Linked DNA regions of Homo sapiens: all the other regions are linked to region 1. The links come from fine-mapping of genetic effects on gene expression. A gene starts in region 1. Each other region holds a variant in brackets. All regions are shown on one strand. Distances are between the middles of the regions. Region 1 holds the start of BANP (BTG3 associated nuclear protein). Region 2 overlaps BANP (BTG3 associated nuclear protein). Region 3 overlaps BANP (BTG3 associated nuclear protein).

Evidence for each region.
Region 2: its variant is fine-mapped to the expression of BANP in whole blood (TOPMed, PIP above 0.99).
Region 3: its variant is fine-mapped to the expression of BANP in testis (GTEx, PIP 0.93).

The regions. Positions count from the first base shown.
Region 1 is chr16:87,949,928-87,952,573 of GRCh38, forward strand. It overlaps BANP (BTG3 associated nuclear protein), which reads left to right and starts at 1,507. Exons shown (of 14, transcript NM_001386991.1): 1 at 1,507-1,588. RefSeq lists enhancers at 863-1,172, 1,432-2,074 and silencers at 1,363-1,662, 1,673-1,792, 1,823-1,882, 1,903-2,002.
Region 2 is chr16:87,982,111-87,984,756 of GRCh38, forward strand. BANP (BTG3 associated nuclear protein) reads left to right here. Exons shown (of 14, transcript NM_001386991.1): 4 at 1,950-2,149. Among named protein-coding and RNA genes, the nearest start is that of BANP, 32 kb to the left of the region's middle. RefSeq lists an enhancer at 1,009-1,601. The variant C/T (reference allele first, on the strand shown) is at 1,543.
Region 3 is chr16:88,021,916-88,024,561 of GRCh38, forward strand. All of the region lies in intron 7 of BANP (BTG3 associated nuclear protein), which reads left to right. Among named protein-coding and RNA genes, the nearest start is that of BANP, 72 kb to the left of the region's middle. The variant A/G (reference allele first, on the strand shown) is at 1,485.

The DNA of each region.
Region 1 (2,646 bases):
AGTCCAGTGGCGCCATCTCGGCTCACTGCAAGCTCCGCCTCCCGGGTTCACGCCATTCTCCCGCCTCAGCCTCCCGAGTAGCTGGGACTACAGGCGCCTGCCACCGCGCCGGGCTAATTTTTTGTATTTTTAGTAGAGACGGGGTTTCACCGTGTTAGCCAGGATGGTCTCGATCTCCTGACCTCGTGATCCACCCGCCTCGGCCTCCCAAAGTGCTGGGATTACAGGCGTGAGCCGCCGCGCCCGGCCAGCATTTTCTTTTTCCCAGTGAAAATAGCTGCCTCGCCCTGTGTTTGGGAGCTCAAAGGCATTCTTGCTCATTGCAAATAATTGAGGAAACAGAGGCGAGTATAAAGAAGAAAATGAAAGGCAAGGTAATCCTAGATTAGCAGAGGGAGATAACCAGGAATGACATTTCTGGGAACTGCGCTATGGTTTGGGAATTTTTTCCTGTGATTACCCACAAACGCACATTTGCACATTTATTCTACGTGTGCACATTCACGTCATCACTTTTTTTTTTTTTGAGACAGAGTCTCGCTCTGTCGCCAGGCTGGAGTGCAGTGGCGCGATCTCGGCTCACTGCAACCTCTGACTCGCGGGCTCAAGCGATTCTCCTGCCTCAGCCTCCCGAGTAGTTGGGATTACAAGGCGCCCGCCACCACGCCCGGCATAATTTTGTATTTTTAGTAGAGACAGGGTTTCGCCATGTTGGCCAGGCTGGTCGCGAACCCTTTACCTCAGGTGTTCCGCCCGCCTTGGCCTCCCACAGGGCTGAGATTACAGGCGTGATCCACCGTGCCCGGCCGCCATCACTTATTTATATTATGTGTTACCTATAGGACTTATCTAAGACCATAATCACTGCCGCGTGTGCTAAGTCCCGCGCGCGTGCACTCAGGCCCCTCTGGATAGACACTGGGGACCCCTGACCACTTATGTCAGGGAAAACGCCACCAAGCGCTCCGGAACCTCAGGGCAGGACCCGCCGCAGCAGCAGGTAGGACCCGCTGGGGGCGCACAGCCCACCTGAGACATCGTAACTACAAGTCCCAGCAACCCTTGGTGCGGGGACAGGACGGGCCACCGGAGTCCGGAGAGACTACAAGTCCCGGCAGGCATGGCCCAGACGCAGGGACTACGAGTCCCCGAATGCATGGCTCCCAGCTTGCGCAGGGCACCCTGGGAGGTGTAGTAGTTGAGGGAGCTAATGCGTATTCATTCCGTCTCAAAGAAGATGCAAATTCCTCAGACCGTCCACTGAGGTGATTGTTCTCACGCAGGCCATGGGCGTGGGCGAAAAACGGGGGGAAAAAAGCCCTGGGAAGCCGGTACCGTCGCGGAAGAAGGCCGCCTGCGCATGCTCACCAGGAGGCCGAGCGGGAAAAGCGCGCGCAGCTGGCCTCACTGCCACAGGGGTGCCCCGCCCCCGGGCCCGCGCGCCCAGTGAGCCTGCGCGGAGGGCGGGGGCCGAGCGTCGCGGGGAGGGGCTCGCGGCGCCTGCGCAGAGCGGCGGCTTCTCTCGCGAGGACGGACGCCATTATCGCATCTCCCCGACAAACACCACGAGAATTCCGCAGCCCACACGGTAATTGCAGCTCCCGCAGCCGGTCGCGCCTCCGCCTCCCCCTTCCCGCGGGGCGAGAGCGAGAGCGAGATCTCCCTCCTCCCTCCTCCTCCCGCCCGCCGGGCCGCCCGCGCCGCAGCCCCGCCGCCGCCAACCGCCCGGGCCGGGCGATCGCCCCCCGGGCCCCGCTCCCCGTCCCCGGCCGCGCCCCGGAAGAGGGGCTCCCGCTTCCTCGCTTCCGCACCCCCGGCCCCACCGCGCCCGGCGTCCGTTGAGCCGCGGCTGCCGCAGCCCGGCCCGGGGGCCTCGCGCTCCCGACCTCTGTCCCGGGCCTCGCCCCGCGGGAAGGACCCGGAGCCACGGCGGGGAGACTGGAAAGGCCTAGAACCGCGCCCGGGCTCCTCTGGGGCCCGAAGTCTCCCAAGGGGGTCGCTCCTGCCAGCCAGGCGGGAGCGACAGGCATCGTTTTTGTGCCTCCTCCGTGGCTGTGGACCGGAGCCCCATAGCCCAGGACTTGCACACGCAAGGGGCGCTCTCGGGGACCGCAGACCTCGGCGACGACCCCAGCCCGTCCCCCGAGGGGCCCCGATGAACGAGGACCTCGGGGTGCCCCCTCCCCAGCACGTTTGTGCGATTTCTGTGATCTAGTCCTTAAGGAAGGTGGCCGTTTTCTTTTTCCCCCCTAGGATGCAGAAAGTAGATGACATTCCATCCACACTGTGTGAGCAAATTGGAGAGATTGCCTTGATAGAGGACTGATGTTTTTCACTGATGAGATGGTAGGGGTTGTCTTGCTATTGGAGAAATACATCATCCCTGAAGAACTGTGAGCAAGTGGAGCGAGTGTGGGCTTTGAAGGGTAGCGAGCTTGCACCCTGACCGGGGAGGGCCCGGGTCACACAGTTGTTGATGTGGAACAGGTAATTGCCCTGTTTGGAGTTGCCTGTTCTGCCCAGGAATGTACTCCAGGGCCTGATGGCGATGCTGGAACTCGCACTACAGTAAATAATTGATAAGAGGAGGCAGTTGTAGGGTTCACTTTTAGCTGGAAGTTCTTAGGGGACAGAAAAATAACTTGG
Region 2 (2,646 bases), 32 kb after region 1:
GGATGTGGCTCTGTTAGTAAACACTGCGTTATCATTCCCTAAATAAAACGCAGCTCTGATTTTATCACAGAACACACATCTGTTGCACATAGAACAGAAATGTATAAAGTGGGCACGGGAGTGGCCCTGCCTTCCTCCTTGTCCCACTGTTGAGAAGAGGGTGGGCCCCCGGTTGAATGTGACTTGCGTAGAGTCGTGTGCGTGGCTCTAGGTTGTTTTATTGGTATATAAGAGTGATTTTTCCCAAAACCCCAGGCAGAATCATTTGTAATTCAGAATTAAAATAACATGGGTGTACTGTGTAAAGAATTTGAGAGCCAAACATTTGATGTTCTCCGGTTGTTGAAAATAGCGGCGTTATCAGTGGCCATTCAGGGATTCAGCCACCTATTGTTGCTTTTCACGACGATGCATGTTTGTCATGCCAGGGACCGTGCCTCCTTTGTAGGTAAGCTGATTGAGTGTCATCACGTGGGCTTGAGTCCACCTGACGCCGTGGCTCCTTCCCTCTCTCACACGCGCCTTCAACAGAGAGTAGTCAGTCAGGGAGGGTGAGTTTCAGTTGGTTTCTTTAGCTCCTGTCTATATCAGCGCCCAGTGGTGAATCTTGCCAGGAGAGGTGGTGACCTGAGAAAAGGCGAGTTGTTGGGCAATATGTGGATTTTCCCTCCTGCAGGGCTGTCCCTGCCACTGTGTACGCCAGGTTTCCATGCCAGCTACATGATGTATGATATCACTGCAGTTTTGATATTCTGCAGATTCCCTTGAGATCAGAAAGGAGAGTGGGCATAAGCAGTGTTGTAGGTCAGCTGCAGTTATTGGGAAAGCCGTTCCGGCTCCAATGTGGGCCGGCCTCCCGCTCCCCTGTCAATGTGGGCCGGCCTCCCGCTCCCCTGTGCTGCGAGCTCCACGGCCCGCTCTCAGTGGCTGCCTCAGTGCCACCCCTGCTGTCTCGAGCCTACCTCCCCCTTCCTTCTGATGTGCACACTTTGGACCCCACGCTCTTTAGGTCATGGGCAGGAAAGGAGAGAGAAAAGACGAAACACGAATTCTGTGCTGTTTTCAGCTGTTGATTCTTAAGGCAGGTGCCAGCCTTCCTGAGTACTAAGCAGGGCTGGTGGGCGCTCCCCCAACCTGTCCCTCCCTAGACCTGAAGGAGTGTCCTTCTGTCTGCTGGTGAGACCTGGTGGAGGGTGTCTCTTTTGCACAGTGCAATTCCTGTGTGATTAACACGTTTCCACGTGTGCTCATGGTGGCTCCTGGCTGGGACGGCAGCTGGGGAAATGAAATTCTTCCCTTTCTGGTTTGTGTGTTTCTCTGTTTCTTGGGTTTGGGGTCCGGCACGTGACTGCTCACTGGTTACTTGGAGTTAGGAATCCGGAGGAGACTCAGCCGGAAAGGTCAGACGTGGAGCCCGGCTTTGCCAACCACTAGGTGGCAAGCTTGCCGCTCAAGAGCCCCACGGGAGCCTCAGGACCAAATCCCAAGTCAGGGCCACAGGGGGTCCCGTCACCTTTTCCCATTAGGCAGCGGGCTGTGAGG[C/T]GAATGTGCGTGGCCTGTGGCTTTTATGCTGTGTCGATGTTAGGTGTAATCTGTTTTTATTGTTGAGAAGATTTGACTAGTTTTATGTGTAAATTTACTGATTAATAATAACATATTAAAGTACATTTTTAAAATTAAATGGGCTTAACCAAGAATTGCAACTGCACGTAGAAGTGAAACCATGACTAAATCATCACATTTGAAACAGGACGTGTGACTCGTGTGTAAAATGTGGACGTGTTACTCACATGTTTCTGGCTCATAGCTCACGGGCTATTTCCAGTGTGGGGATTGTTCTGTCTGAATAGATAGAGTTGAGATCAGGAAATAGCTGTTTGGTGTTTCTTGGGGTTGTCTTCTTACAGTTCAGGAGACCCTTCCTAAAGCCGGTCTTTTTTCACTTCCAGTCATTCCTGTATTCCATCAACCAGACAATCTGCTTGCGGTTGGATAGCATTGAAGCCAAATTGCAAGCCCTGGAGGCTACTTGTAAATCCTTAGAAGAAAAGCTGGATCTGGTCACGAACAAGCAGCACAGCCCCATCCAGGTCCCCATGGTGGCCGGCTCCCCTCTCGGGGCAACCCAGACGTGCAACAAAGTGCGATGGTAAGAACAGACCAGGGTGCCGGGGCCTTCAGGTCACTTGGGGAGAAGCGCGTCACCTCCTCGCCCAGGCCCGCAGCTTAGTGGCTCAGTTTGCTGGAGATGCGCGGTGTCTGCCTCAGCAGTCTCAGCAGTTTCTAACTAAAGCTGACTTTTAGTTAGACCGAAACCGAACACATGGCATCCTGCCAGGATGACCTGAAGTCATCCTCACGTTTCCTTTCCACATAAAGCCGACCCATGCACCTTTTCTTTGGAACTAACCCACCAGATCTTAGAAAATGTACATGTGCTTCTTTCCTTTTTCCTACTCTACCTGGCTAGTCTTTACATATGTTTTTCTTCGTATGTGGTGTTTATACATTTCACATGAATATATCAAACTTTTCATTCAAGTCTGCAGTTTTTATTTTGCTTATTTTTAAAAAGTAGAGTCTAATGAGTCTAATCTTAGAAAGCTGTGTGGTAGTTTGCAAACTGTTTGAGTAGAACCTTTATGA
Region 3 (2,646 bases), 72 kb after region 1:
AAGTCTACATTTTGAAACACACAGTAGGTAAAGTCTCTAAGTACCACCTTCTCAAAATGAGGAAATGAGGTTATTGAAAGAGGGAGAGAGAGAAATTTGCTTTTTGGGGTGTTGGCTTTCTTAGGGTTCCCAAGGATTGGTGGACCCCCCGAATTTGGGCAGCTAACCAAATTTGTGTGTTTTATGCAAAAGTAGCATATTATTGCAACTTGGAAAACCTTGGAGCATTTTCCTAAGGAATGTGCTCTCAGGACAGCAGCATTCGCCTGTTTTCTCTATGAAGAGAAATTGGTTTAGTTCTTAGGATTTCTATCCACGGCTCGCTCACGCCTCTGCTTGGACTCTGCATCCAAGCCGGTGACCCCGGATCTGAGGGCTTTTCTAAAGAATGCTGTCTAAGGCCGTGCCACCCTGAACACACCCGATCTCGTCTGATCTAAAGAATGCTGCTGTGGATGGCCGATCCCCATGAGACCTCCTAGCAGTTACGGAAAGACTGGATTCATTTGCACAAGGTAAAAAGTTATGCTTTCAGGGTTGACCTGTCAGATGATTGTAGTTCTTTTCAAATCATTCACTCCAAGCCCCAGGTGGTGGTACCTAGTGGGAAGCAGCGGGGGCCACTTCACCCACACCTGTCCCTGTGAGTGCAGGTGTGCGACCTGGCCCCGTTGTGTCTTGCAGGGTGCCTCAGGTTCCTGTGGCCGCGGGGACAAAGCTCACAGCCTGGCTGGCTTAGAACACAGGCTTGTGTTCTCGTGCAGGTTTGGAGGCCAGATGCCTGGGATGAAGGTGTGGGCAGGGCCACGCTGCCTGAGAAGGCCCTTTCCCTCTCCCAGCTTCTGGTGGTGGCCGCATCCCTCCAGTCTCTGGCCGCATCCCCCTCGGCTGTCTTCCCCCCATGTCTCCCTCTGTGTCCCTCTCCTTATGAGGACAGTCACTGGATTTGGAGCTCCCTCTCCTGCAGGATGACCTCATTACAACCTAATGAATCACATCTGCAGAGACCCTAGTTCCCAGTCAGGTCACATTCTGGGGTCCTGGACCAGGACGTGAGTTTTGTGGGGACACTGTTCAGCCCAGGACACAGGACACGGGTGGTCAGGTGCTGTCTCTTCTCCAGGTTCTCTGTGAGGTGAAATGGTGAGGCTGCCCTATATGTGTCCTTAAGGCAGAATGTGGACTCCATGCAGGGGTGGGTGTTTGTCTGTGTATCTTGGGACATTGAGCGCCTCACGGTGACTGAGAGCTGGGAGGAAGGTGTGGTCAGTGTGGGCTTCAGGCAGAAAAGTGAGCAGAGCCTCCTTCTCAGCAGGTCACCCAGAAGCTGTGACCTGGAGGTGGTCCTGCAGGTGGCTGTGAGGGGCTCTCTGGCTAACAGACTGAGGACAGGTGTCTCTCCATCATTTTTTCTCATAAAGGAGTGAGTCAGCAGGCTTGAAGAAGGTGGCCGGCTTGGCCTGGAGGCTGGACGTTTGAGGTGC[A/G]TGGGGCGTGAGCTGTGTATGCTTCCCCCGGGAGGGAGCATGTCAGCTGGCTTCCATCGGGCAGAGGCCTTTTGTTTTTCTAGGCAGCGCTGTCACGTCGAGTCTGTAATTTGAAGAAATCAGTTGTTGGCACTCGGTTTTGTGGTGCCTTCCCTTGCACATGAGAGTGTGTTAGCAGGTGGGGCTCTTCATTCCTTTGTGACTGATAAAGCCCCATGCCACCCACCAAGGCACAAGATGACAAGCCCTCCTGGCTCTCTCATCTCGCTTCCCACAGTGCCTCTCATGGCCCCACAGATGGAGAGCTGGGAATCGGCTTATGATTTGAACCACCAGAGTCAGTAACGGGGGTTCTGGAAAGTGGGAAGGCAGCTAACGGTGTAGTGGAGACTCTTTAGCTCTTTGGGGACTGCAGAACAGCTCGCCAGGAAAATAGAGGCGTGCACTGTGGCAGGGATGCTGCCTGGCTGAGCCTGGAAGGCAATCCCGTCCCGGCCTTGAGGGGCCTCGGTTGGTGTAGTGTGGGGATATGGCTGGGGAAAGCAGGGACTGAGGCCAGACAGGGTGTTCTGCTCCCAGGTGACGCCACGCTGTGGGGATCCCGTGAGCCTCAGCAGCCGGATGCCGAGCACTTCTGTTCTCCTTGTGTCCTGGGCGCTGCTGCAGGGGAGACTTCTGCCTCGATTGAAGTCCGACTAGGCCTCCCAGAGCAGGGGCTGCAGGTGCCTTGGGCTGAGGGAGCTCAGGACAGCAGAGTCACGTGTGCGGGGCTGTGCGTGTTCTTCCCGTCTCCCCGAGCACCTCTCATGGGTTCTCAGGATCCAGTGAGGGCCGCTGCTTCTTCACCTGGTGGGCCCAGGAAGCTTGCACTTTAAGGCCGGTGCTCACTCCTAACTAGTAATTGGACTTGGACACATCACTTCTCCTTTTTCTGGCTTTTGCCTCAAAACCAAAGTGATGAGAGTAGTGACATTCCTACTTCATGAGGCTTTTAAAAAAAAATGTCTGTCAAATAACATGAGATCAAATGCTTAAAGTGGAAAATGGCAGTTAAATTCAAGGTGATCTTTTGATCCCATCATGATAGGATTTTTCCCGCTCCCTGTTAAGTGCGGCTGCTCAGTGCTGTCAGAAAAGGTAAAGGAATCCGAGCCCTGAGGGC